2 separate regions of the Homo sapiens genome follow, and region 1 is linked to region 2. Evidence: fine-mapped expression QTL. A gene starts in region 2. The other region holds a variant in brackets. All regions are shown on one strand. Distances are from middle to middle. Region 1 overlaps TMEM69 (transmembrane protein 69). Region 2 holds the start of IPP (intracisternal A particle-promoted polypeptide).

The links. PIP is the estimated chance that this variant, and not a neighbour inherited with it, causes the effect.
Region 1: its variant is fine-mapped to the expression of IPP in whole blood (INTERVAL, PIP above 0.99).

What each region holds. Positions count from the first base shown.
Region 1 is chr1:45,693,988-45,708,404 of GRCh38, reverse strand. TMEM69 (transmembrane protein 69) reads right to left here. Exons shown (of 3, transcript NM_016486.4): 3 at 13,969-14,417. It overlaps IPP (intracisternal A particle-promoted polypeptide), which reads left to right. Exons shown (of 9, transcript NM_005897.3): 9 at 8,215-9,694. The coding sequence ends at 8,439. Among named protein-coding and RNA genes, the nearest start is that of TMEM69, 13 kb to the right of the region's middle. The variant G/AG (reference allele first, on the strand shown) is at 9,688.
Region 2 is chr1:45,742,001-45,757,681 of GRCh38, reverse strand. IPP (intracisternal A particle-promoted polypeptide) reads left to right here and starts at 7,029. Exons shown (of 9, transcript NM_005897.3): 1 at 7,029-7,085; 2 at 11,221-11,562. The coding sequence starts at 11,271. LOC105378693 (a long non-coding RNA gene) reads right to left here and starts at 6,733. Exons shown (of 3, transcript XR_947290.2): 1 at 6,434-6,733; 2 at 2,941-3,117. RefSeq lists a silencer at 6,919-7,188.

The sequences.
Region 1 (14,417 bases), 49 kb after region 2:
GCCTGGCCCTAGGTTGCTTTTTTTTATCTTTAATCACCCTGGGCTGGGCGCGGTGGCTCACGCCTGTTACTCCAGCACTTTGGGAGGCCGAGGCGGGCAGATCAGGAGGTCAGGAGATTGAGAGCATCCTGGCTAACACAGTGAAACCCTGTCTCTGCTAAAAGTACAAAAAATGAGCTGGGCGTGGTGGCTGGCGTCTGTAGTCCTAGCCACTTGGGAGGCTGAGGCAGGAGAATGGCATGAACCTGGGAGGTGGAGCTTGCAGTGAGCTGTGATCATGCCACTGCACTCCAGCCTGGGCGACAGAGTGAGACTCCATCTCAAAAAAAAAAAAGTAAAAATAAAATAAAATAATCACCCTGAAGATGTTTTTTAATTTCCTCTTAGATTTTTTTCTGACAAGTAGTCAGTAGTAATTTTTGTCTTTGTTCCTCCATATGTAACGTGTTTTTTCTTCCGCAGCTTTTAAGATTTTCTCCTCATCATGGGTCTTCAGTAATTTGATTATGATGTGCCTTGTTATTTTTGTTTAACCTTTTTGGAATTCATTGAACTTCTTGAATCTGTGGGATTATAGCTTTAATCAAGTTGGAATGTTTTCTGCCATATTTTTTCAAATATTCTCTTGTCTTTCTGGGATTCCAATTATATATATATATGTAAGACCACCCAATATTGTCCCACAGCCATTGAGGCTCTGCTAAGTTTTTCCCACTCTTTTCTCTCTATGCTTCAGTTTGTCTAGTTTGTTTTGCTCTGTCTTCAAGTTTATTAATCCTTTAGAGTATCCAAACTTCTAGTTCGCAGTGTCCAATCCCATCTATGGAATTTTTCATTTTAGATATTGTATTTTTTAGCTCTAGAAGATCTGTTTTCTTATGTCTTCTGTTTCTCTCCTCATCATGTTCATATTTTCCTTTAGCTCCCCAAACAATTAATAATATTAGTTTTAAAGTCATGTCTTTTTTTTTTTTTTTTTTTTGATATGGAGTCTTGCTCTGTCACCCAGGCTGGAGTGCAGTGGCGCGATCTTGGCTCATTGCAAGCTCCGCCTCCCAGGTTCACGCCATTCTCCTGCCTCAACCTCCCAAGTAGCTGGGACTACAGGCGCCCACCACCACGCCTGGCTAATTTTTTGTATTTTTAGTAGAGATGGGGTTTCACCGTGTTAGCCAGGATGGTCTCGATCTCCTGACCTCATGATCCACCCGCCTCGGCCTCCGAAAGTGCTGGGATTACAGGCGTAAGCCACTGTGCCCAGCCTAAAGTCTTTTCTAATTTCATCATCTCTGTCATGTTTGGATATGTATCTGTTGACTTGTAAAATTTTAGAGACAAGGTTTTGCTGTGTTGCTCAGGGTGGCATCAAACTCCTAAGCTCAAGTGGTCTTTCTGCTTCAGCCTCCTGAGTAACTAGTACTACAGACATGCACTATGGTGCCTTGTTGACTTTTTAAATTCCTGGTTTGAGTAACATTTTTTCTGGCTTCTCCACATTTCTATTAACTTTTGATTAGATGGTAGACATTGTAAATATTATGCTGCTGAGTATTTGGATTTTGTTTTCTTCTTTTAAGTGTTGAATTTTGTTTTGTTAAATAATTCAATTATTTGCAAATCAGACTGATATTTTTGAGACTTAAAAAAATTATTTAGGCTGGGTGCAGTGGCTCACACCTATAATCCCAGCACTTTGGGAGGCCAAGATGGGTGGATCACTGAGGTAAGGAGTTCGAGATCAGCCTGGCCAACATGGTGAAACCCTGTCTCTACTAATAAAATACAAAATTAGCTGGGCAGGTTGGTGCATGCCTGTAATCCCAGCTACTTGGGGGGCTGAGGGAGGAGAATCGTTTCAACCTGGAAGGCAGAGGTTGCAGTGAGCTGGGATCACGCAATTGCACTCCAGCCTGGGCAACAAGAGTGAAACTCCATCTTGGAAAAAAAAAATTATTAAAAAATTTTTTTCAGAGATGAGATCTTGCTGTATTGTCCAGGCTAGACGCAAACTCCCGGACTTAAGTAATCCTCCCAATTTAGCCTTCCAAGTAAGCTGGGACTACAGATACATGCCATGGTACCCAGCTTGAGACTTGTTTTAAGGCTTTGTAGGGAAGGTCTAGAGTAGCCCTTCCTTTAGATCTAGTTTATCCCTATTACTAAAGCATGACTCTTTTTGGGTCTCTGCTGATTGCCCCAGGTGTTCAACAAATTATCTTCACTTTGGTTGGTCAGAACTCAAATATCTCATAGCCTTGTGTGAGCTCTAGGAATTACTCAGCTTACAACTCCTCCCATTAGTTGTCCTTTGCCTGTACCCACGGAATCTCACCTTAGCATGCATAGATTAGTAGTATTCAGTCAAAGACTGAAGGGGACCTGTATACTGTACCAAACTCTGATCTCTGTCTCCTGTATCAGCTGACTATCATGCACTGCTTGAGATCCCCTTCTGCGTACCTGTTTTCAAAAAGCCCCTCCAGGCATAAAGTCTAGGTGGCTGTGTTTACTTTGTTTCATTTTCTCAGGGATTACAGTTTTACATTGCCTGTTATCTAATATCTGAGAGGTTTTTTGTTTGTTTGTTTGTTTGTTTGTTGAGACGATGTCTCACTCTGTCTCCCAGGCTGGAGTGCAGTGGGGCAGTCTTGGCTCACTGCAGCCTCCACTTCCTGGGTTCGAGTGATTCTTGTGCCTCAGCCTCCCAGGTAGCTGAGATTACAGGTGCGCACCACCACGCCCAGCTAATTTTTGTATTTTTAGTAGAGACAGGGTTTTGCCATGTTGGCCAGCTGGTCTCAAACTCCTGACCTCAAGTGATCTGCCCACCTCAGCCTCCCAAAGTGCTGGGATTACAGGCGTGAGCCATCACCGCACCTGGCCTAATGCCTAAAAGTTTTGTTTCATGTTTTATCTAGTTTTCTAGGTCTTTAGGGTCAGAGGGCAAGTTTGGTAACAATTGATCTATTATGTCTGGAAATGGAAATCCCTCCTGTGTCCTTTTGATACATTACTGTCATTCATTCAGCATTTCTTTATTTTCCGGCAGAAATATTTTCAGTTTATCTTATACTTTTTCTGCTTTAGCCCTGGAATCAGCCATTTCTTCAAGAAGCCTTATTTCCTTTTGGTGAAGGACAGTATTTAGAAACCAAGATGTACACACTTAGAGTACTAAATGCTACTTGGATGTTGCTGCTTCTAGCTGTAGCAGGGCAGGAGAGCCCCAAATTGGGCTTAGCCCAGGAATGTTCTTGGCCTTGCTCAGGATGGAATTTAAGAGCAAGCTGGTGGTAGAAGAAAACAACCTTATTGAGGTGGCAGTGTTACAGCTCTGTAACTACTTCTGCAGAGCGGGGCTACTCCATAGACAGTGTGTTGAGAGTAGCAGCTCAGAGGCAGTTCTGCAGTCATTTATACCTACTTTTAATTATGTGCAAATTAAGTGGTGGGTTATTCAGAATTTTCTAGAAAAAGGGTGGTACTTCTGGGTTGTTGCCATGGAAAGGACAGTAACTTCTGGGTGTTGCCACTGGCAATGGTAAACTGACAGGGCACTGGTGGGTGTGTCTTACAGAGAGTTGCTTTCGCCTCTTCCCTGTTTCAGCTAGTCTTCAATCTTGTCTGGAGTTGATTCACCACCTTCTACCTCATAGCCACCCTCAGTAAACAGAGCTAGGAAATGTATGTATGTAAACAGGTTTTCACACACATATTCATCTGTAAATATTTCTATATCTATTTGTGCAGTTATATTGTAAAACCATGAATTCATAATGATAGCTCCAATTCTAGTACACCAGGTTTTTTCAGGCCTTCTCCCTTTCCATGTTGTAAATACCTTTTCTGTCAGTTAAAGACTTTGCTTCCGCCGGGCGCGGTGTCTCACGCCGGTAATCCCAGCACTTGGGGAGGCCGAGGCGGGTGGATTGCTAGGTCAGGAGTTCAAGACCAGCTTGGCCAACATGGTGAAACCCCATCTCTACTAAAATTACAAAAGTTAGCTGGGCGTGGTGGCAGGCGCCTATAATCCCAGCTACTCTGGAGGCTGAGGCAGGAGAATCGCTTGAACCCAGGAAGCCGAGGCTGCAGTGAGCCAAGATCACGCCACTGCACTCCAGCCTGCGTGACAGAGCGAGGCTCTGTCTCAAAAAAAAAAAAAAGACTTTGCTTCCATTATCCTCAATATTTCATTCAATTTACTTATTTGCTAAATGAAGCCAATTTTCTTACCATACCAGCTGTCTTCTCCATCTAACATCTCCAGTGACCCATCCAGTCACTGCCTAGGTGAATTCCCCAGGGTTCCCTCATTCCCTCAGTTCCTGGGTTGACACAATTATGCTTATAGTAAGAGAAGAGAAGAGAAAGGTAGGAGACAGGAGGTTGCATCTTCACTGAGTCACTGTTCTGTCATGTATTTGTTCATTAGCTCATTTATTCATTCACAAATACAGACTTCTTAGTATGTAAGTATGGATCAGACACCATGCCAGGCAGAAACAAGAACAAACTCAACATATACAGCCACTGCTCTCAAGGAGGCTACATTGCATTGAGGAATACGAGAAATAAATAGTCAGTTATGTTACAATGTGTTAAGTGCTGGGAAAGTGAAGTACAAAGTGTGTTATGCCCTAGACTTACAGGTTAGGCCAGCTTTTTCCGAATTAATTTCCATGGAATACTAATTTTTTGCACTGTTAATAGGAATTGAGTAACTTGAGTTTCCCTGGTCAACTATATTCAAGGAAATCTGGGTTAAACCAGGTTAAATTAGTTTCTTTACCACAGGACTTCTTTACAGAATTTAGTACAATAATGTACTTTATGAATCTTTATGTCAAGTCTCTCAAATTCACTTGAACATAACCACCCTTGCTTTGTTCTGTGGATATTTGCAGAATATCTTGTGGAAGTGTTTCAGGGAACAAATTTTGAGAAATAAGGTTTAGTCTTATTTGAATTTTATGGTTTTTAATGTCACTTATGGTTAGTAAAACCTTCAGAACTTTTGGCCAGGTGCAGTGGCTCACACCTGTAATCCCAGCACTTTGGGAGGCCAAGGTGGGTAGATCACTTGAGCCCAGGAGTTCAAGACTAGCCTGGGCAACATGGTGAAAACCCTGTCCTATAAAAAATGTGAAAATTAGCCAGGTGTGGTAGTGCACGCCTGTAGTCCCAGCTCCTCAGGAGGCTGAGGTGGGAGGATCACCTGAGCCCAGGAAGGTCAAGGATGCAGTAAGTCATGATTGCACCACGGCACTCCAGCCTGGGCCACAGAGTGAGACCTTGTCTTTAAAACAAACGAACAAAAAAGATTGTTTTACTTCTTAAATCTGGATTAAAACTAGATGCATTTTTTTTCATTGTTTTCCCCTCATTACCCTAGCTAGAACCTCCAGTACAATGTTGAAGTGGCAAGAATGGACTTTCATGTCTTGTTGTAAAGCATAAGGATTTTGATTCTCATTTCTGACAAGTTTTAAACTTTGGTGACATTTCAAATTCCTTTCTCCATGATCCTATTTGAGTTTATCTAATATAGAAAGTGAACTTTTTGAGGGCACTTTCTGTTGCTAATTTTTCTATATGGCTTTGAAATGAATAGATTTTAGTTTCAAATTAAGTCTTATCAATAATTGTTAATGGTCGGGTGCAGTGGCTCATGCCTGTAATCACAGCACTTTGGGAGGCTGAGGTGGGTGGATCACCTGAGATCAGGAGTTCAAGACCAGCCTGGCCAACATGGTAAAACCCTGTCTCTACTAAAAATACAAAAATTAGCTGGGAGTGGTGGTGCACACCTGTAATCCTAGCTACTTGGGAGGCTGAAGCAGGAGAATTGCTCCAACCCAGGAGGCAGAGGTTGCAGTGAGCCAAGATCATGTCACTGCACTCCAGCCTGGGCGACAGAGTGAGACTCCGTCTCAAATGATAATAATAATAACAACAACAACAACGACAATGTGTTACCTTGTTTTTTATGCATATGAAATTTTATTGTTATTGACTACCTACTAACAATTTGTGTTACAAATCCAGAAAAGATAATGTAAAACTTGTTAGTGTTCTTACAGAGTTTTTTTTTTTTTGAGGTAACATGGGATAAAAAGCAAATTATATTAGATGAGAACATGTCAATTAAATCAAAAATAAAGTAATAAAAATTTAAAAATTAAACTGTAGTTCTAATACACTGGTAGAAATGAAAGAAGAACAATATAGGATGAGCCCTAAGGTCCCTTTGTTATTGTCAAGGGGCATTTTGTGGGAGAGCAAAGGTTCTCCCTAATTACAAACATAACCTAAATTATCCTAATTTATCTTAACCAGAAATGGATCTTCTTGAGAATGTATTTATATTTTAAAATGTAAGTATTTTTCAGTTGTGTCAGTTTTGTGATGTGCTGTGTAATTTCAGATGATCAAATAGCTTTCAAATTTAATCTAGTCCTTCACTTTCAAAGAATTGTCCCTGGTTTAGTATTTCATAATCTTATTTAAGTTCACATCAGCAAACATACACTAACTGTTTATAATATGATGGCACTATCCTAGTACCTATGTGGGTACTGGGATGAGAAGCTCAAGTCCCTGTCCTCAAAAATTTACTTTCTAGCATTGATGAATAATCAGTCTTCACTATTTATGATTAAAAAAACTTTGTTCATCATATGCTTTATTTAAAGATTGATAATCTGTTCTCCCATTACCTGGCCACTTGCTCTTTGCTCTCCTAATTACTTCTTAGGACCTTTAGTAGCTTTCTTGTTTTCTGAGTATGGACGTTTTCCCTCAAGTAAGACACTACTAGTCGCTGGGTGCGGTGGCTCACGCCTGTAATCCCAGCACTTTGGGAGGCCAAGGCGGGTGGATCACTTGAGGTCAGGAGTTTGAGACCAGCCTGGCCAACACGGTGAAACTGTCTCTACCAAAAATACTAAAAATTAGCCAGGCGTGGTGGCGGGTTCCTGTAATCCCAGCTACTCAGGAGGCTGAGGCAGGAGAATCGCTTGAACCTGGGAGACAGAGGTTGCAGTGAGCCAAGATCACACCATTGCACTCCAGCCTGGGCAACAAGAGCGAGACTCCGTCTCAAAAAAAAACAAAAAAAAAAGTAAGACACTACTAGTCATTTTGGCTATAGCAGCACATTGAAATTTCTTCAGGGAATGATGTATAACAGGAGTTAGCAAACTTTTTGTGTAAAAGCCCAGATAGTAAATATTTTTGGCCTGTGGGCCATACACAATATCCTTTTTTGATATATGCTTTGTCTTTTTTTAAAAAATACCTTTTAATATGGGAAAATCATTGTTTGTTCTCAGGCTATACCAAAGTAGACTATAGTTCCCAACCCCTGGTTAGCCCACCTTTTTGAAAATATGTTCTGCAGATTACTAACTCCACTGGATGCTCCTTGTAAAAAGGATTCCATGGTCAAATAAATTTGTCAGGTGTTCCATGCTGTGTCATTCTCTTGGACATTTTTAAGACTCATTAAAATACTAAAGGCTTTTAAAAAATCCTTTGGTTTATAAGCTTCTTTCTCCTTGGAGCTTTGTGGTTCTTTTGTTTTTATTTGCTTATTTTTGAGTGTATTACCTACTTGTATTCCATAGACTTTGTTTCTTAGAATGTTGTCCTGTGTATGAGTTCTAGGTCATTTCCTGATCATGTTTTATAATCAGACCTTTTAAAAAATTATATTCCTCTAAATTTACTTTGTTCATGCCCACTTCAAGTTTATTTTAAAATATTCTGGGCCGGGTGCTGTGGCTTACACCTGTAATCCTAGCACTGTGGGAGGCTGAGGTGGGACAATCACTTGAGTTTAGGAGTTTAAGACCATCCTGGACAACATGGTGAAATTCCATCTCTACAATAGAAAAATTAGCTAGGTGTGGTGGTGTACACCTGTAGTCCTACCTACTCAGGAGGCTGAGGCAAGAGGAGCTCTTGAGTCTGGGAGGTTGAGGCTGCGCTGAGCCGAGATCGTTGCTGTGCATTCCAGCCTGGGTGACAGAGCGAGACCCTGTCTCCAAGGAAAAAACAAAGCAAAAAAAAGAAAAAAAAATCTGTATGCTTACCTGACTAGATAGTTTTACATTTAAACATGTAAAAAGAACTGGGATATCGAATTTCTCAGTGGATTTCTTTACTATCATTTCATAACACTGCTAACATATTTTTTTTTTCTCTCTTAACCAGGAAAAGTGGGTTGAAGTTGCCTCAATGAAAGTGCCTAGAGCAGGCATGTGTGTTGTGGCAGTCAATGGTCTTCTGTATGTTTCTGGAGGTCGATCTTCCAGCCATGATTTTTTGGCTCCAGGTACCTTGGACTCAGTTGAAGTTTATAACCCTCATTCAGATACATGGACAGAAATTGGTAACATGATCACCAGTCGTTGTGAAGGGGGCGTTGCTGTGCTATGAAATATAAAGCATAACAGAGCACAAGGAACATTTTGAAAATGCAGGACCTGACCTTTTGCAAAGCAAACATAGATTTGGTGATAAGACCCTCTGATTCTGTGAGTTTTCCATGTATTTGGTAGATAAATGACTAACGAGGCTGGGCGCAGTGGCCTCATGCCTATAATCCCAGCACTTTGGAAGGCTGAGGCAGAAGGATCACTTGAGCCCAGGAATTTGAGGTTGTAGTAAGCTACGATCATGCCACTGCACTCCACTCTGGGCAACAGAATGAGATCCTGTCTCTTAAAGAAAAAAAATAAACTCAAGAATGATTTTTCTAAAAATATGAGTGAGAATGGATATGGAATATATCCCAATTAATAAAGAGCTCACACAGATTTGCCAGGTTTACTAATAATAGAAATGCCATTTATGCTGTAGAATTCTCCAGTTTAAGTGTAGACAACTCCTATTTTACAAATTTGTAGAAATTATTTACTAGAAGCTTCCTGGCAAATAGTCCCTTTAGCTACTTCTCCAGTGCAGTATAAATTGTAACATAAAACTTTATGTGATATAGGAATAGTGTCAATGACACAGTTTAAAGACCTCTATATTCACAATTATATCCAGAGCATAATTTTCCATGGCCATAGTTTGAGCCACAGAGAAAGCCAATGAAATAGATTCCTACTTTTATTTAATGCCAAGAGTTTTCACTAGCCCCAAACTTTTTATTGGCAGCAGATATCCTAGGAGGGGTGTTTGGGAAATATCTAGCTATTTTAATAGATAGATACCTTTTTGCTTGATGATAAGTTTTTGCTTGCTCATATTTTTTGTCTTGATCCTGAGAATGCAAGTAAGGAATTAATAGGAGGTTCTTAGTGACCAGATGTTGTAATGGGCTATACAGTCCAGCAGGCAGTATGCACCTAGAAATTTCTCCCTTTTTTAGGCTGGGCATGGTGGCTCACACCTGTAATCCCAGCACTTTGAGAGGCCGAGGTGAGACGGGAAGATGGCTTGAACTCAGGAGTTCGAGACTAGCCTGGGCAACGTGATGAGACTCCGTCTCTACCAAAAAATATATAAAAATTAGCCGGGCGTTGTGGCTTGTACCTGTGGTCCCATCTGCTTGGGAGGCTGAGGTTGCAGGATCACTTGAGCCCAGGAGGTCAAGGCTGCAGTGAGCCAAGATTGTGCCACTGCACACCGGCCTGGGTGACAGCATGAGAACCTGTCTCAAAAAAAAAAAAAAAAAAA[G/AG]AAAAAAAAATTCTTCCTTTTTTGCTAGATTGTTGTCACCAAAATTATCTGTTTGGCTTTAGGAAGAGGGAATTTTATTAGATTATCAAGCTTTGTAAAATTTATTTGTACTTGGGCAAACCTAAGTAAGAGCATACTGCAAAGCTACTGCTTGGATGTAGAGGGCTAAATTGTAGGTACTTCTGAAACTTTTTATAGATACTGACTCATAAGTGTAATTTGAAAGTACCCCTTGACCCAAACAAAACTGCTTCTCAAAACTTCTCATTTTCTCCCTGAGAAGCATTCTAAAGAATTGTTCTCTGTTCATTTCTAAGAGAAAGATTTACTGGGTGTATGATGCGGTTACTTTTAAGTTATTTCTACTGGCCAGTTGGAGCAATATATATTAAAGGTCTTGCATACAGTAAAAAAAATTTTTTTTTGAGATGGAATTTTGCTCTTGTTGCCCAGGCTGGAGTGCAAAGGCGTGATCTCGGCTCACTGCAACCTCCGCCTCCCGGATTCAAGCGATTCTCCTGCCTCAGCCTCCCAAGTAGCTGGGATTACAGGCGCCCACCACCATGCCTAGCTAATTTTTCTGTATGGGGTTTCACCATGTTGGCCAGGCTGGTCTCGAACTCCTGACCTCAGGTGATCCACCTGCCTTGGCCTCCTGAAGTGCTGGGATTACAGGCATGGGCCAGCGTGCCCGGCTGCATACAGTAAAATTTAACTAGTTGACTTAAGGATTTGATTTCCCGTTTCTTTTTTTTTTTTTTAGATGGAGTCTTGCCCTGTCACTCAGGCTGGAGTGCAATGGTGTGATCTCAGCTCACTGCAACCTCTGCCTCCCTGGTTCAAACGATTCTCCCGCCTCAGCCTCCCGAGTAACTGGGATTACAGACGTGAGCCACCATGCCTGGCTAATTTTTTGTATCTTTAGTAGAGACGGAGTTTCACCATGTTGGCCAGGCTGGTGTTGAACTCCTGACCTTGTGATCTGCCCACCTTGGCCTCCCAAAGTGCTGGGACTATAGGTGTGAGCCACCGCACTCTGCCGATTTCCCATTTCTTTGCTAAGGTCCTTCAGTATATTACTATAAGCATCATCAACTTATTTAGATAGAAAACTTTTAATTGCATTAATGAATTAGGTAGCACTCATATCCAAATTATTTGGTTTAGGCCGGGCACCGTGGCTTATGCCTGTAATCCTAGCACTTTGGGAGACTGAGGTGGGCAGATCACTTGAGGTCAGGAGTTCAAGACCAGTCTTGCCAACATGGTGAAACCCCGTCTCTACTAAAAATACAAAAAATTGGCAGCAGGTGGTGGTACATGCCTGTAATCCCAGCTGCTGAGGAGGCTGAGGCAGGAGAATCACTTGAATCCAGGAGGTGGAGGTTGTAGTGAGCTGAGATCATACCACTGTGTTCTAGCCTGGGCCATAGAGCAAGACTTTGTCTCAAAAAAAAATAAAACAAAAAATATTTGGTTTAGTCTACAACTATACCTTCCTTATAACTTAACCATATGCATTTATTAGGAAAAGTTTATGTAATGCAGACAGGAAGCTCTATGTTCCCTTCTCTGGGGCATCCTGAACGTCTGAAGGGTCACAGATGTCTGTGTAGAGATCTGTAAGATGTCAAAGAATAAAGATAATTTATAGACTAAGCTATAACTCATGTGCCTTTACTATTTCTAGTTACAGAGAATCTGTATTCTGATTCAAAACAGATTTACAAAATACTTCTACAACTAATTTCTCATTGTCTAGTAGCAACTGAAAATGACACTTTGAAGGGGTGTGCTTTGCACAGCTGTGGCAGAAATGTAATGTCAAGGCAGTCAGTGTTTTAACAGGTCCCGAAGATCCCTGAAAATAGGTGACTGTAAATATGCTTATTATTCCTAGGTAATGACAAGATTGGTTTTGTTTTTGTTTTTGTTTTGAGATGGAGTTTCGCTCTTGTTGCCCAGACTGGAGTGCAATAGCATGATCTTGGCTCACCGCAACCTTTGCCGCCCGGGTTCAAGCGATTCTCCCGCCTCAGTCTCCTGAGTAGCTGGGATTGCAGGCATGAACCACGAGGCCCAGCTAATTTTGTATTTTTTGTAGAGGTGGGGTTTCTCCATCTTGGTCACGCTTGACTCGAACTCCCGACCTCAGGTGATCTGCCTGCCTTGGCCTCCCAAAGTGCTGGGATTACAGGCATGAGCCACCTCACCAGGCTAACAAGATTGTTTTTAAAAGAATGTACTAATAAAGTATCTAGTTTTTTTGTTTCTTTGTATTACTTTATCAGTGGCATTCTGGGTTACCAAACTGTAGTAGGATTGCACAAGTTTTTTAGTTGGTTTTGTTTTAACTTTAAGGACTTGCACATTTCATTTTACATTTAATTCTGTTTTTTGAGAAATGATTAAAGTGATCTACCTCCAAAATGTTTAACAATCCGATATGCTTCTAAGTATCCTGCCAATGTACTTAATCAAATGTACTTAAAAATCAGTTTTCTTAAAGAAGCATACACTGTAATTCACCTGGAAAAATAGCATTTTTAAGTAAAATTAGGCAATTAGCCTAAAAATATGATTTGCCTCTATTCTGGAAAATAATTCATTTAATTCAGATTATGGAAAAGTCTTAAATTTGTATAGCATTCATGCAATTTAATAACAAAGAAGTGAGTTTCCTTATCAAAACAATCTGAGTAGAATCAGATTGAGACTGAGTGGAAACATCATCTCTAAAAAATATACAGGCCGGGCACGGTGGCTCATGTCTGTAATCCCAGAATTTTGGGAGGCCAAGGTGGGTGGGTCACCTGAAGTTGGGAGTTTGAGACCAGCCTGACCAACATGGAGAAACCCTGTCTCTACTAAAAATACAAAATTAGCTGGGCATGGTGGCGCATGCCTGTAATCCCAGGTACTCGGGAGGCTGAGGCAGGAGAATCGCTTCAACACGGGAGGCGGAGGTTGCGGTGAGCCGAGATAGCGCCATTGCACTCCAGCCTGGGCAACAAGAGTGAAACTCCATCTAAAAAAAAAAAAAATTCCAGGTTATACTATATCCTGATCTATATCCTTAGACCATTTTTAATCCTTAGACCATTTTTAATGTTTTTCCTTTTTGGTGAGACTAGGAATTTCAGAAAACTAGGTTTTCTGTTAATTCTTTTTTTCTCCACCTTAAGTAGAGTGATTAGAGACTACGTTTTCAAGTGAAAATCTAAGGTGTTGCTTTTGCTGTTTTAAGAAAGCTTCTGCACTGGGTGCAGTGGCTCACGCCTGCAATCCTAACACTTTGGGAGCCTAGGCAGGAGGATTGCTTGAGCTCAGTTCAAGACCAGCCTGGGCAACATAGGGAGACCCTGTCTCTACAAAAAATTAAAAAATTAGCTTGGCATAGTGGTGCACAACTGTAGTCCCAGCTACTCAGGAGGCTGAGGTGGGAGAATTGCTTGAGCCCAGGAGGTCGAGGCTGCAGTGAGCCATGACCACACCACTACACTCTGGCCTGAGCAAGAGTGAGACCCTGCGTTTAAACAAAACAAAACAAAAACAAAAACACACCAAAGCTAAAAGCTTCTCTGTGATTTAAAAGATGTAGAACTAGACCAGCCTGTCCAACATGGTGAAATGCCACCTCTACTAAAAATACACACCAAAAAATTAGTTGGGCATGGTGGCACGTGCCTATAATCCCAGCTACTCTAGAGATGCTGAGGCAGGAGAATCGCTTGAACTCGGGAGGTGGAGGTTGCGGTGAGCCAAGATCGTGCCACTGCACTCCAGCCTAGGCGACAGAATGAAACTCCATCTCAAAAAAAAAGATGTAGAACTAGATAGGCCTGCTCATTAGAATATCAAGATGGCTCCAGCTTGACTTTTCTTTCCTAATTTATATGTACTAGTGGCTTTATTTTAAATAGTTTCCTTTGAAAATAATCATTTTGACCAGCTATTATGTGTTTGGTGGTAAGGGACAAGTTGTTATCTGTACCATGCCAAATATCCTAATAAAAACTGGAAAACATGTCCAACTTACCTTTGAATGTGGCTTTCCCTCATGACACTGCTCCCTACTGACTTTAGAGCCATAGATCCTTTTAGCTCATATAATTGGGTTATACCATGTGAAATAAGTTTGGACATGCCTTTCCCAGTGGTAACTCCTGTGAAAACTCAATGGAACTACCTTTTCTTTTCAGATACTCACAGATACGAGGTTTTCCGCTTGAAGTGGGAGAATATGTGCATTCTTTTCAATGATCACAAGACTCTAACAAAGGGGATTTTTAATCTTTAATTTTCAAGATGGTTAAAATATTGAAATGTTTAAGTGGATAACTATATTATTCATAAAATGACTGAGTGAAAACTAATATACTATGAGATGAAAAGTACTTGTCAGGGATTTTCAAGCTTTTGCTCAAGTAATTACCATGAAGTAACAATTTCTAGAAATGAAGAACAATCTGTGAAGATAAATTACCATTGGTGTGGGGAAAAAAAGCCAAACAGAAGTAGAAAAAGGTGTAGCTGGCATACAAATGTTATCTACAGTGTATTTATATATATATATTTTTAAAACTTTTAACTAAAAAGTAAACTTTAATGTCGAAAATGCAAACTTGGGGAAGACAGAAAAGATCACACACAAGGCTGTCACTTCACACGTGGAAGGTTGCACAGCGGCCGGGCAGAGGCGCTTGTCACACTTCCCAGATGGTCAGGCG
Region 2 (15,681 bases):
AACCACTGACAATTCACTCAACCCCACTGCTTTCCTAACAGGAAATCCAAACCAGGAAGAACCTGAGCATAAATGCTTAGATTTAATCAGTTATCAAACTAGAGTCAGAGTGGATCTAAGTGAAACCCCTTTCCAAATAGAGGGTCATCTCTTTATAGATGGCTCCTCCTAGGTCATTGAAGCAAAAAGGCACAACGGGTACTCCATAGTTGGTGGGGAAACCCTCACAGAGGTAGAGTCAGGAAGACTGCCAAATAACTGGTTTGCCCAAGCATGTTAACTCTTTGCATTAAACCAAGCCTTAAAATACCTGCAGAATCAGGAAGGAACTATTTACATTGACTCCAAGTATGCCTTCTGAGTAGTCCATACCTTTGGAAAGATCTGGATTGAACAAGGCCTCATCGATAGTAAGGGCCAAGATTTGGTCCCCAAGGAATTAATTATGCAAGTATTAGAAAATCTTCAGCTGCCGGAAGAGATTGCGGTTGTCCATGTCCCACAACACCAACACCAAAAGAACTCATCTTTTGAAAGCTGGGGAAATAACCTCGCAGATCAAGTAGCTAAGCAAGCTGCCTCTTCCCAAGTGTCACCCATTTTCCATCTAACTTCTTCTCTTCCCCCTCCAGCTGCAATCCCCATCTTCTCCCACGCAGACCAAGAGAAACTAAAGAAAACAGGAGCTAAGGAGAGCCCAAAGGGCAAGTGGGTACTAACAGATGGAAGGGAAATGCTGTCTAAACCCCTCATGAGGGAAGTATTGTCACAGCTTTATCAAGGAACTCACTGGGGTCCTCGAGCTATATGCAATGCAGCCCTTAGGGTCTATGGGTGTATAGGGATATATACCCTCGATAAAGTGGCGGATGGTTGCATAGTGTGCAGAAAAACTAATAAGCAAACCCTAAAGAGGCAAGCCTCCCGGGGGAAGAAACCCAGGGCTGAGGCCGTTCTAAAGCGTCCAAGTTGACCACACTGAAATGCCCCCAATAGGCTGTCTCAAGTATTTGCTAGTCATAGTAGACTAGCATCCACTGGGTAGAAGCCATCCCCTTCCCAAGCACAATAGCCAGCAATGTAGTCAAAGCCCTGTTGGAACATATCACCCAGGTTTGGACTAACAGAGAACATTGATTCAGACAATGGGACCCACTTTACTGCACACATCATTAAGGGGCTAACCCAAGCAACAGGAATAAAATGGGAATATCATACTCCCTGGCACTTCCCCTCATCAGGGAGGGTAGAAAGAATGAATCAAACTCTAAAAAATCACCTAACCAGGCCAGGTGCGGTGTAATCCCAGCTTCTCAGGAGGCTGAGGCAAGAAGAATTGCTTGAGACTGGGAGACAGAGGTTACAGTGAGCCGAGATCGTGCCACTGCACTCCAGCCTGGCCAACAGAGTGAGACTCTGTCTCAAAAAAAAAAAAATCACCTAACCAAATTAATCTCGGAAACCCAGTTACCATGGACAAAATGCCTTCCCATGGCCTTACTAAGAATCCAAACTGTCCCTTGAAAAGATCTTGGCCTGTCCCCTTATGAAATGCTCTGCGGGCTGCCTTATCTAAATTCCACTACTGACCTTCCCACATTTGAAACAAAAGGTCAGCTTCTCAAAAACTATATACTTGGTCTGTCTTCCACCCTTTCCTCCCTCAGGACTCAAGGCCTCCTAGCGCAAACTCCACCCCTCGAATTCCCAGTTCACCAACACCAGCCCGGAGATCACGTCCTTATCAAAAGTTGGAAAGAGGGAAAGCTCAAACCAACCTGGGAGGGACCTTATCTAGTACTCCTAACCACTGAAACAGCAATCCCAACGGCTGAAAAAGGATGGACCCACAACACTTGAGTAAAAAAGGCCCCACCCCTTGGAGAGTCATGGACTTTCACTCCAGGACCTACAGTCTCCAAACTAACATTCAAAAGGGTTTAATCTGTCTTTTTCTTCTGCCTTTAGCTACCCAAGGACATCTAATCATCAGTGTAACCCAATCACCCTCCCCCCAAACAATTATATTCAATGCCTGTCTTGTCATGCCCTGTGGGGATCTCCAAAGTCAAAGATAGCTAGCCTCTTCAGAAAAGTACCTTTGTCCCTCTAGGATAAATTACACTGCCTACAAAACTAACTCTTGCACTGAATGGGCACGAACTTAGCATTGATGGTTTTGCTATACTTGGGGAGATGTTATATGGACTACTAAGTATCAGGGCTGGACCTCCTCAGAGGGTTGCACCGCCCTAAATCCTACCTCCACTTCATCAAAGGAACCACCCTCTCTAGTTGCCAATCTTACCATTGCAACCCAGTACTTATCTTTATTAATACCCCTACCTCCACCAGCCCTACACCCACTTTAGAGTGCTTTTATGGCCTAGGAGCAGATGTCACTGGAAAGGACCCTATAGGCTTCTTCGAAACGCACTTTGTTCCTCCTCCTCCATCTTCCACCATTACGCCCTCCCCAAACCCACAAAATCAAACCATTTCTCTCTTCATGCCCAATGACAAAACCAAAGTAGCTAGAGTAGAAGTCAAGGACTTAAACCAAACCATAGCCATAGAAACCGGGTATCAAGATGTAAATGCCTGGCTGAAATGGATTAAATATTCTGTTGACACACTAAATAAAAGCGATTGTTATGCTTGTGCAACGGGCAGGCCAGAAATCCAAATTGTTCCCCTCCCACTCGGATGGGCCAACCAACCCGGCATGGACTGTATGGTAGCTCTCTTCTAGCACCCCACAGCTTGAGGAAACAAGTCATGTGCCACTCTTACTTTTCCCAAAGGTCAGGAGCCCTATGGGACAGCCCCCAAGGGCCATTCAACTTCCAGCTCTTGATGCCAATTTTACCTCATGTCTCTCATGGCAAGGGGAAAATTTGACATTCCTTGGAAACATAATAGGATGTAGTGACACTAAACTTTTTCAAACTTTTTTCAGTCAGTCGGCCCTATCCATCCCTGAGTGGATGTGTGGTGGTATTGTGGGGGACCAATATTGGGTACACTGCCAAACGACTGGAGTGGCACTTGCGCTCTGATCCAATTGGCCATCCCTTTCACCTTGGCATTTCATCAACCAGACAGGAAGCAGGTAACCTGAAGAAAAAGAGAAGTCCCAATTAACGGGTCCTTTGACCCCCACGTTTACATAGACAGCATTGGGGTCCTGCCGGGGGTACCAAATGAATTCAACACTTGAAACCAAATAGCTGCTGGGATCGAGTGTATCTTATTCTGGTGGTACACTATAAATAAAAATGTAGACTGGATAAATTATATATACTACAATCAGCAGCGATTCATCAATTATACCAGAGATGCCATAAAAGGAATAGCTGAACAATTAGGCCCTACCAGCCAGATGGCCTGGGAAAATAGAATAGCGCTTGACATGATGTTAGCCAAAAAAGGCGGAGTCTGTGTCATGATTGGGGTCCAGTGTTGTACTTTTATCCCTAATAATACACCACCCGATGGGACAATCTCAAAAACCTTACAAGGCCTTACCACCCCAGCAAATGAATTAGCCGAAAACTCTGGAATAGAAGATCCCTTTATGGGCCTGATGGAAAGGTGGTTTGGAAAATGGAAAGGACTCATGACCTCAATCATTACCTCCCTTGCAATTGTTACAGGTGTACTCATCCTTGTGGGCTGCTGTATCATACCCTATATTCGTGGGTTAACCCAAAGGCTCATAGAAGCAGCTCTCACAAAATCCTCCCCTACGTCTCCCCCTCTGTACTCAGATAAGTTCTTGCTCCTAGATAATCAAGAAGAACAACAAAGCCAAATCCTGTTGAAGAAATCTGAAGAGGAAGAGCTATAGAACAGAAGAGGGGAAATTGTTGGGACAACTAAGTGCCTCTTCAAAGACTCAACTTTCCGCTCGTAAGTTGTAAAAGTTGTAAATCAATCCTACCTGCCCCCCTTCTTCTTCTTTTTGCAAATTGTGCGTTTACCATATTTGGAAAAGTTTAAGTCTTAGCCAATCAGGATCAGCTTAGATTGTGCAGTCCAACCCCAGTCAATAGGGGAAGGACACAAAAACAGGAACTGCATTAGGATTAAAAACTCCTTCCCTCCTTTGTTTGGTGTGCTCTTGTGATTTTAACAGGCGCAAGCAGCACCATCCTGCAGAAGTAAAGGTGCCTTACTGAGAAATTTTCTGTCTAAGTGTGGGTTTCTTTTGGCTACGCCAAGCACTTGTTTCCAATAAATTTGGGGGCTCGTCTGGGATCCTGTTCTCCTTCGGGAGGGGCTAGCGATTATCTTTTATGGGGAGACGCATCCCACTGCCTCACTGTGGTAGCTCCAAATACCATTACATTGGAGGCTAGGGCTTCAACATGTAAATTATGGGGAGGACACAATTTAGTCTATAGCAGCCTATAAGCATTTTTTTTTTTTTGAGACAAAGTCTTGCTGTTTTGCCCAGGCTGGAGTGCAGTGGCATGATCTCAGTTCACTGCAATCTCTGCCTCCCAGGTCCAAGCAATTCTAAAGTTAACATTTTATTTGGGAGGCAAGAATTGCAATTCAAAGCATATACACAGACTGGGTGTTCTTTGGTTCACTTTGAGGTTTTACAAAAAGGAGAAATGTTACATATGGCTTTGAAAGAAAGTTCATTGGCACTAGGAAAGTTTTAGGTTGCTGGCAAGCTCTGATTGGTGAGTGACTGCAGTGGGTAAAACTAGTCCTTTGAGGCTGGGCTCAGTGGCTCAAGCCTGTAATCCCAGGACTTTGGGAGGTTTAGGTGAGTGGATCACTTAAGCCTGGGAGTTCAAGGCCAGCCTGGCAACATGATGAAACCCTGTCTCTACAAAAAAGACAAAAATTAACTGGGCTTGCTGGTATGCAGCTGTAGTTCCAACTATTTGGGAAGCTAAAGTGGGAGGATTGATTGAGCCCAGGAAGTCAAGGCTGCAGTGAGCCCCGCCCCAATCACACCACTGCACTTCAGCCTGGGTGACAGGGAGAGAGACCCTGTCAAAAACAAAACAACAACCAACAACAACAACAAAAACCACCAAAAAACCAAACTAGTCTTTGAGTCATGGCAGTTTGTTTCAATAGCTATTGGGTAAAACTGGTTTCAGGTTACAACAGGCAGTTTCAGCAGACAGGGTTGCAGAGAATTACATTCTTTGAGCAATGAAATGTGCCCTCAGTGTTTCCCCTCCCACCATTTTCGGTGGGTATGAGAAGAATGGCCCAATCTGTATGCTTAACTTTCACAAGTGTAATCCAGAGTAAGTCATGAAATTGATTTTAGTAGTGCTGAAGTATAATTTTCTGAAGAGTAAAACCATGACTCTCTTACAAATATAAAAAAAAAGTATCAAATATTTTATTTATCTCATTAACTTATAAGGGAGCCAGTAAGATATTTAGGAATGTAGCATGAATTTGCTAAGAATCAGGAATGTTTAAATGAATTTGCTGAGAAGGGTAAAAATGGCTTAATATGCTACAGGTCAATAAAACAATGTTTTGGTGTATCTTTTCTACAGACGGGCAAGAATTATTTTAAGTACTACCAGTTTTCTGGTGAAATACTTTAGTCAATAGAAAGTCAGAGCTCCCTATGGATGCAAATCCGTCCAGCCTTACACTGAAAGGGCACACAGAATTCTCTTTTCCTCATTTCCAAGTCTTTGACAATGTTTGCTGACAATAGGTCCCTGTTAGCAGTTTTTGGTAATGAAGTAGAAAAGAAGAAATAAAAATTTAGTGCACTGCGGGTCGTAAGTGTAAACATAGTTTTGTGAAGATTTTGTTTCAGGCCAGGCACAGTGGCTCACACCTCCCAGCACTTTGGGAGGCCGAGGCGGGCGGATCACTCGAGCCCAGGAGTTGGAGACCAGCCTGGTCAACATGGCGAAATCTTGTCTCTACTAAAAATACAAAAAATTAGCCTGGCGGTGGTGGCACAGGCCTGTAGTCCCAGCTACTCAGGAGGCTGAGGTGGGAGGACTACCAGAGCCCAGGAAGTCGAGGCTGCAGTGAGCCGAGATGGCACCACTGCACTCCAGCCTGGGCGACAAAGCCAGGCCCTGTCTCATAAAAAGAGAAAGAAATACACTTTGGGAGGCCGAGTCGGGCGGATCACCTGAGGTGGGGAGTTTGAGACCAGCCTGACCAACATGGAGAAACTCAGTCTGTACTAAAAATACAAAATTAGCCGGGCATGGTGGCGCATGCCTGCAATCCCAGCTACTTGAGAGGCTGAGGCAGGAGAATCGCTTGAACCCAGGAGGCGGAGGTTGCGGTGAGCCGAGATCCGGCCATTGCATTCATTCTAGCCTGGGCAACAAGAGCGAAATTCCGTCTCAAAAAATAAAAAATAAAAATAAAAATAAAGAAATGAGATTTTATGTTAGATATATACTTCTATATATATACTCACAAGTATGTGGTATTGAGTTTGATGTAAAATATTTTTGTTCACCGTAGGCTGGGATCAAAACAGTTTGAAAGCCACTAATGTGACACATGAGGGTCAACAGTGAAAAAAACTGGACTTTTGAGTTCTTCCTTCCCCAAAATAAGTATCCCTTCAGTGCCAGGCTCAGTCATGCACTCAGAAAACGATTCGAGAGAACAGTAGAGAAGGACCGTGCCAGGTGTTCGGCTCGTCTCTGCTTAACTGAGATCCGCGGCCTTCTTGGGACACCACAAGAATCAGAGTGCAAGCGGAATGGAAAGGGCGAGCCAGCCGGCCCCAGCAGGCAGAAGCAGAGGCTTGCAGCTAAGCTGTTGATCCTTGGGGAAGCAAGCCCAAGCCCTGGGCCCCATCAGTGGGCACTGAGAGGCGCCAGCGGCCCAGTCTCCCGCGAGCGGAAGAACCTCGCGCACGCGCAGTGAAAACCCAGGGCCCGCGAAGCGTCCGAAGTCCCTTCCCACCGCCCGGCTTCGCCTCCAGTTCTCGGGGAACTGTACGGCCCAGTCACTCCCGCCTCGTCACCCCCGCCAGGTTTCCCCCGCCCTCTCCGGCCGGGGCTGGTCGCGACTGCGCGCGCAGGGCCTGAGCGGGCGCCGGAGGGAAGGGGAAGCGGCGGGTAAGGAGGGCCTGCGTTCGGGCGCGTCTGTGACGGGGTTGGGAACTTCCTCTTCTACTCCCTCCGGCTTTCCGGACCCCTGAGGACTGGAGTGAGAGAAGCCTCTAGAACTGTGTATTTCCTTGTCTTTCCTTCTGCCGCCGCAGGCCTTCCTCCGACAGTCTAAGTGTCGCCCTCCCCAGACCTTCTCGTCCGGACCGCTCCTGCCTCCCCCGCCCCAACTGGGGAATCCTGAGGCTGTGTCCCCAGTCCCTCTGTTGTCGCCTCGTTTGTCTGAGATCCCTTCCCTGACCTTTAGGTAGCGCAGGAACGATTATTAGCTTTTAGTGTAGCAGCAGTTTAGGGCTAGCTCTCTAGGCCGGGCCCCCAACTCAAGCACAAAGAACCACGGGTGTTTTGACACTTGTTCCGGGGATTCTTTCTGACACCCCTTTGCTGAAGCAGTTTCCACATGTTCCCAGCAGTGAATTCAAAGCCAGCAAACATAGGTCCGCTTTAGTTCCTCTGGGCATTTCTACCGTTTCCTAATAATCTGCTTTTTTTTTTGAGACAGTCTCGCCCCTTCTCCTAGGCTGGAATGCAGTGGTGCGATCACAACTCACTGCAGCCTCGACTTCTCAGGCTCTAGCGATCCTCTCACCTCAGCCTCCCAAGTAGCCGGAAGTACAGGCTTGCCCCATCACAGCCAGCTAATGTTAAAACAATTTTTTTTGCGGCGGGGGGCTCGCTGTATTGCCCAGGCTGGTCTTGAACTCTAGGACTCAAGCGATCCTCCCTGGCCGGGCGCGGTGGCTCACGCCTGTAATCCCAGCACTTTGGGAGGCCGAGGCGGGCGGATCACGAGGTCAGGAGATCGAGACCATCCTGGCTAACACGGTGAAACCCCGTCTCTACTAAAAATGCAAAAAATTAGCCGGGCGTGGTGGCGGGCGCCTGTAGTCCCAGCTGCTCGGGAGGCTGAGGCAGGAGAATGGCGTGAACCCGGGAGGCGGAGCTTGCAGTGAGCCGAGATCGTGCCACTGCACTCCAGCCTGGGCGACAGAGCGAGACTCCGTCTCAAAAAAAAAAAAACAAAAAACAAAAACAAAACAAAAAAAAAAAACAAAAAATCAAGCGATCCTCCCGACAGGACATCCCAAAGTGCTGGGGTTATAGGTGTGAGCCACCTTGCCCAGTCAACAATCTGCTTTTCAAGTTTGGGGCACGTGAGGCATGCAACGTCACAGAATTGTGCTCTTTTCCTTTGGAAATATGGTCACTCCACATGCCACCTTTTGGGATGACGTTCCTACTCCACTGACAGTGGGATGGTATCAGCAGTTACTGAGAAGCATGGTAACAGACTAGTATTTCTGTTGTCTGCCACCCGAATGGATATTCAGTCAACTCTTTCTTGTAGCAGGAGGCAGCATTTTAGCTCAGTGGCTGTGCTTGATGCCTTGAAGTAGGGGACAGAGGAGGTACCTTGTAATTAAACCACTAGGGTTCAAAATGTGCTGACAGAAATGTAAAACAGAAAAGGCCTGACAGTCATGTCATGTTGATAATAGTTCCAGGTCACATTTCTGTGTAGGGCCAAATACATGGTTTCTCCGCCCCCACCCCCTTTTTTTCCTTTTTTTTTTTTGAGACGGAGTCTCTCTGTTGCCCAGGCTGGAATGCAGTGGCTCCATCTCCACTCACTGCAACCTCTGCCTCCCAGGTTCAAGCGATTCTCCTGCCTCAGCCGCCCACGTCACTGGGATTACAGGCGCCCACCACCATGACTGGGTAATTTTTTGTATTTTTTAGTAGAGATGGGGTCACCATGTTGGCCAGGCTGGTCCTGAACGCCTGACCTCTGGTGATCCACCCGCCTCAGCCTTCCAAAGTGCTGGGATTAAAGGCGTGAGTCACCGCACCTGCTTTTTGTTGTTGTTGTTGTTGAGACACGGTCTTGCTCTGTTGTCCAGGCTGGAGTGCAGTGGCACCATCTCAGCTCACTGCAGCCTGGACTTCCCTGGCTCAGGTGGTCCTCCCACCTCAGCCTCCCCTGAGTAGCTGGGACTACAGGCCTGTGCTATCATGCCTGGCTAATTTTTTTGTATTTTTAGTAGAGACAGGGTTTAGCCATGTTGCCCAGACTGGTCTCAAACTCCTGGACTCAAGCGATCTGCCTGCCTCAGCCTCCTAAAAATCTGGGCTTACAGGTATGAGCCACTGTGCCCAGCCCCTTTCACCCTCTTTAAAAAATTTATTTTTCACTTCAATTTGGGTGACAGAGTGAGACCCTGTCCCCCAAAATAGATATTTTTTAAATTGGCACATAATAATTGTTTTATATTTACATTTATGAGGTACAGTGTGATATTTTGATACATGTATATAATGTATAATTATCAAATCAGGGTAATTACCATATTCATCACCTCAAACACTTCTTGCTATTATATGCTAGTTATATGTAATATGTTGATATTCTGTAGATGGTGATATGAAGTTTTAGCAGCTACCTTCGAATCTCTCAATCAAATTTCTCAATAAGTTAATTCCTAGAAAGTGATGATAATCAGCCTTGTTATTTTGACTTTGATAAGTTTAAATGCTATAAACGTAACCATTTTTTTTCTAACATCAGCCCACACTATAAGTCTTATTACCCATTGTCATTGATACCTAAATTACAAAATCTTAGTCATCTTAAATTTCCCTGTGCTATTCCATATGTCTTATATTACAGGATCTCATGGTTTTTTTTTTTTTTTTTTTTTTTTTTTTTTTTTGAGACAGAGTCTTGCTCTGTTACCCAGGCTGGAGAGCGGAGGGCAGTGGTGTGATCTCAGCTCACTGCAACCTCCATCTCCTGGGCTCAGGTGATTCTTGTGCCTCAGCCTCCCAAGTAGCTGGGATTATAGCCCTGATCCACCACGCCTGGCTAATTTTTATATTTTTAGAAGAGACGGGGTTTTGTCATGTTGGTCAGGTTGGTCTCGAACTCCTGGATTCAAGTGATCCTCACGCCTCAGCATCCCAACGTGCTGGGATTACAGGCGTGAGCCACTGTGCCCAGCAGTTTCTTTATTTAAAAAGTAATTTAGAACGTGTCCGGTGGCCTAATAATTCCTATGCAGTGTGATATGGTGGAACAGTCCTGGATTTAGAGTAAGAAGGCCTGGATTCAGATACTGAGACTGTCATACTAACATTGTATCCTTGGGGAAACTTTGAGCTTCAGTTTCCTTTTCTCTCATTTTAGATAAGATTATCTTTTCTTCTCACCTCTTAATTATTGTGAGAGTTACCATTGACATAATATGTGGAGAAGTTAAAAGTTAAAAAAAAAACCCAACCTAAGCTGTTGTTATTTCTCCTTGTTCTCATTCATTTCACAAACATTGGAAACCTAACATATGTTATATACTGGTGCTAAAGCTATGAAAGATAGTACCTGCCTTTAAAGGGCTGTGTTTCAAGGAGCTCTGAAGCGCGCGCGCGCGCTCGTGTGCGCGCGCATGCGCGCACTAAGAGTAGGGTGGTAGGGTATTTGATAAGGTAGACCTGTGCTATAGAATGTAAAACCAATAAGCTTAGGGTGAGCAACAAACTCAGATGAGTTTGGGAACATATTTCCACAATTCCAGAGGAGCAATGGGGAAAGGTTCCTGGAGGAAGTTATATTTGAACAGAGTCTTAAATTATAACAAGAATCCCGAAGGGCTTTGTGTGCTACGGGAAGTGTACACATTGAATGATTTTAAGCAGTTAGACTGATCACAACTGCTTTTCGAAAGTTGCTGTTGTCTGTGATGTGTGCTCTGTGATGTGTGCTTTGTTAACTTTCTGTCTTTGTGTTTTATTATTATTTTTTTTACTCCATCAAGAAGTGTCCTCTCCTCATACCTTAATATTAACTGTTTATCTTTCAGTTTCTAGTGCAGGTCCCATTTCTTGTGTGAAGCATTCTCCAATTATTTTAGCTTCCCTACTTATTTCATTCTCTGAAACCATATTAGAAATAGTAATAGTACCACACTTTAGTCCTTATTTGTTTTATGTCCTTAAGTAGATTTTAAGTATAGAGAATGCTTCTTATGTGTGAATAGAAAGCATGTTAAAAAAATTTTGTTGCTTGATCTCTTTGTATTTTGTTTTTCAGGGTAGTAACAGATTATGGGCAACAGTCCTTTTAATTAATCTACCGTCATCATGGCTAATGAGGACTGTCCCAAGGCTGCTGATAGTCCTTTTTCATCAGATAAACATGCCCAACTCATCTTGGCCCAAATCAATAAGATGAGAAATGGACAGCATTTCTGTGATGTGCAGCTGCAAGTTGGACAGGAAAGTTTTAAAGCTCATCGGCTGGTTTTGGCTGCCAGCAGTCCTTACTTTGCAGCTTTGTTCACTGGAGGAATGAAAGAGTCCTCAAAAGATGTTGTACCGATTCTAGGAATTGAAGCAGGAATCTTTCAGATACTTCTAGATTTCATTTACACAGGTATGTTACATGAGTCTGTTGCTTTGACTGAAGAATGATTCAATCACTCATGCACTAATGTGGAAATATAAATTGATCTAACTTATCTAGAAGGTAATTTAGCAACATGTTATTATGTGACTGAAAATTCATATCTTATGACCCGGTGCTCCTTTTCTAGGAATCTGAAGGAATTAATTAGTGATGCAGGCACATATTTACAAACCAGGATTTTATTGTAACATTATTATTATTATTTTATTTTATTCTTTTTTTGAGATGGAGTCTCTCTCTGTCGCCCAAGCTGGAGTGCAGTGGGGCGATCTTGGCTCATGGCAACCTCTGCCTCCCAGGTTCAAGCGATTCTCCTGCCTCAGCCTCCTGAGTAGCTGGGACACAGGCGCATGCCACCACACCTGGCTAATTTTTTTTTTTTTTTAATTTTTAGTAGAGACAGGATTTCACTGTGTTAGCCAGGATTGTCTCGATCTCCTGACCTCATGATCCGCCCGCCTTGGCCTCCCAAAGTGCTGGGATTACAGGCGTGAGCCACTGCGCCTGGCCTGTGACTTTATTTATAGTAGTATATAATTGAATAAAATCTTGTCTCAGTAGGTTTTATGGCTAAATAAATTATGATACATGTATAGATCTCACAAATGAGATCTAACAAATCTTAAAATATATGTATACTATTATGGAAGAATGTTTACAATATATAAAATTTTAAAAATCAGGATATAAATAAACCCCTATTTTGTTTGAAACACAACCCAAAAAAACTTATATGTATTTACACATGAGAAAGCAGCCAGAATGTTTGATAGCATTTATCTGTAGGTAATTTTTTTCCACAAAGTGTTTATAATCAGCATATGTTATTTTACTCAAAACTATCTCTTAAATGTTTTTGAAGAGTTTTAATAACATTAGAGAATGTACACAGGGGCACAGTGGTTCATGCCTGTAATCCCAGCACTTCGGGAGGCCAATGTGAGAGGATTGCTTGAGGCCAGGAGCTCAAGACTATGCAGGACAACATAGCAAGACCCCATTTCTAAAACAAAAAAAATTTTGTTTGAGACAGGGTCTCTCTCTGTTGTCTAGGCTGGAGTGTGGTGGTGCACTCACACTTCAATGCAGCCTTAATCTCCTGGGCTCAAGTAGTGCTACCATCTCACCACCCTGCATAGCTGTGACTACAGGTATGTGCCACCATGCCTGACTAATGTAAAACAAATTTTTTGTAGAGACAGGGTCTCACTACATTGCCCAGGCTAAAAAAAAATTTTTTTTTTTTTTTGAGACAGAGTCTCGCTCTGTCACCAGGCTGGAGTGTAGTGGCGTGGTCTCGGCTCACTGCAACCTCCGCCTCCCAGGTTCAAGTGATTCTCCTGCCTCAGCCTCCCGAGTAGCTGGGACTACAGGCACGTGCCACCATGCCCAGCTAATTTTTATATTTTTAGTATAGACGGGGTTTCACCATGTTGGCCAGGATGGTCTCGATCTCTTGACTTCGTGATCCACCTGCCTCGGCCTCCCAAAGTACTGGGATTGCAGGCGTGAGCCACTACGCCTAGCCAAAAAAAAATTTTTTTTAATTAGCTGGGTGTGTGGCTTGTGTCTTTAGTCCCAGCTAACGGGAGGCTGATGTGGGAGGATCCAGGAGTTTGAGGCTGCAGTGAGCTATGATCAAGCTGCTGCACCCTGGACTGGGAGACAGAGTGAGACCCCATCTCTGAATAAAATAAAACAACTGGAATGATGAAGAGGGGAGTAGGGGAAGGGGAAAGAAAGAGAAGGCACACCAAAACGATGTATAGTCTTACAGGATATGCAATAAATATGCATAGAAAAAAGATTTGAAAGGCTGAGATGGGATGATCACTTGAGCCCAGGATGCTGCGGCTTCAGTGAGTGATGATCATGCTACTGCACTCCAGCCTGGGCAACAGAACAAGACACTGTCTCAAAAAGAGAGAGAGAAAAACTATGTGAAGAAAGACACTACAGTGTTAATACAATGTATGTCTGTGTATGGAAAAATATGTTTTTCATTTTAGTTTTTCTGTCTTAAAGTTCTTTTTCCACAGTGAATATATATTACTCTTTTTTTTTTTTTTGGTGACGGGGTTTCACTTTGTCGCCCAGGCTGGAGTATAGTGGCACAATCTTGGCTCACTGCAACGTCTGCCTCCCAGTTTCAAGCGATTCTCCTGCTTCAGCCTCCCAAGTAGCTGGGATTATAGGCTTGCACTAACATGCCCAGCTAATTTTTGTATTTTTTTTTTTAGTAGAGACGGGTTTTCACCATGTTGGCCCGGCTGGTCTCAAACTCCTGACCTCAAGTGATCCACTCACCTCAGCTTCCTAAAGTTCTGGGATTACAGGGGAGAGCCACTGTGCCCAGCCTCTTTTATTTTTTATTTTGTGAGACAGAGTCTTGCTTTGTCACCCACGCTGGAATGCAGTGGCAAAATCATTGCAGCTTGACCTCCAGGGCTCAAGCTATCCTCCCACCTCAGCCTCCTGAGTACCTGTAGGACCACAACACACACCACCATGCCTGGCTAATTTTTAAATTTTTTTTGTAGAGATTATGTCTAGCTATGTTGCCCAGACTGGTCTCAAACTCCTAGGCTCAAGCAATCCTCCCACCTCAGCCTCCCTAGTAGCTGAGACTACAGGCGCACATGCTACCACACCTGGCTAATTTTTTTTTTTTTGAGGCGGAGTCTTGCTGGGCTTAGTGGCGCACACCTGTAGTCCCAGCTACTCAGGAGGCTGAGCCAGGAGAATTGCTTGAACCTGGGAGGCAGAGGTTGCAGTGAGCAGAGACCATGCCACTGTACTCTAGCCTGGGCAACAGAGCAAGAGCCTGTCTCAGAAAAAAAAAAAAAAAAAGATGGGTGTGGTGGCTCACGCCTGTAATCCCAGCACTTTGGGAGGCTGAGGTGGGTGGATCACCTGAGGCCAGGAGTTCGAGACCAGCCTGACCAACATGGTGAAACCTCGTCCCTACTGAAAATACAAAAATTAGCTGGTTATGGTGGTGCGCATCTGTAATCCTGGCTACTTAGGAGGCTGAGGCAGGAAAATCACTTGAACCCAGGAGGTGTTGGTTGTAGTGGGCCGAGGATGCACCACTATACTCCAACCTGGGTGACATAGTGAGACTCTGTCTCGAAAAAAATAAAAAAATAAAAAAATAAAAAAAAGAAAGTGAAGCCCTTGGAAAAGAAAGTGGTATACGTAGTTAAGTATTTAATAGTTTCTCTTATGTTATAGATTATTGGTTATTCCTAATATTAAAAACTAGCATTGTGTATAATCCCTGCACTTTGGGAGGCTGAGGTGGGTGGATTGCTTGAGCCCAGGAGTTTGAGATCAGCCTGGGCAATGCGGCAAAACCCTGTCTCTAAAAAAAAAACCACAGAAAATTAGCCGATCATGGTGGTGAGTGTCTGTAGTACCAGCTACTCGGGAGGTTGAGGTGGGAGGCTCACCTGAGCGTGGGAGGCAGAGGTTGCAGTGGGCCAAGATTGCGCCACTGCACTCCAGCCTGGACAACAGAATGAGACACTGTCTCAAAACAAGCACAAACAAAAAATGAACATTATGTGGCGTTTTATCATAATTGAAGATAGAGACCTTGTCTTACTCTCCCCAGTGCCTCAGTAAATGTCTGTTACATGCATATAACCTTATGTTAAAAGCATAGACTTTATTTGTTGTTGTTGCTGTTGTTGTTTGTTTTTTTTCTTTCCAACTTTTAGGTTCAAGAGGTACATATGCGGGTTTGTTCCATGGGTAAATTGTGTGTCTTGGGGGCTTGGTATGTAGATAATTTTGTCCCCCAGTTAATCAGTATAATACCTGATAGGTAGTTTTTCAATCTTTACCCTCCTCCTACCCTCCACTCTCAAGTAGGCCCGAATGTGTATCCATGTCTTCTTGGTGTCCACGTGTATGCAATGTTTAGCTCCCATTTATGAGTGAGAACATATGATATTTGGTTTTCTGTACTTGTGTTAATTTGCTTAGAATCATGGCCTCCAGCTCCATCTGTGTTGCTGTAAAGCACATGATTTCCTTCTTTTTTATGGCAAAAGCATGGACTTTGATGTCAACCCCTACCTT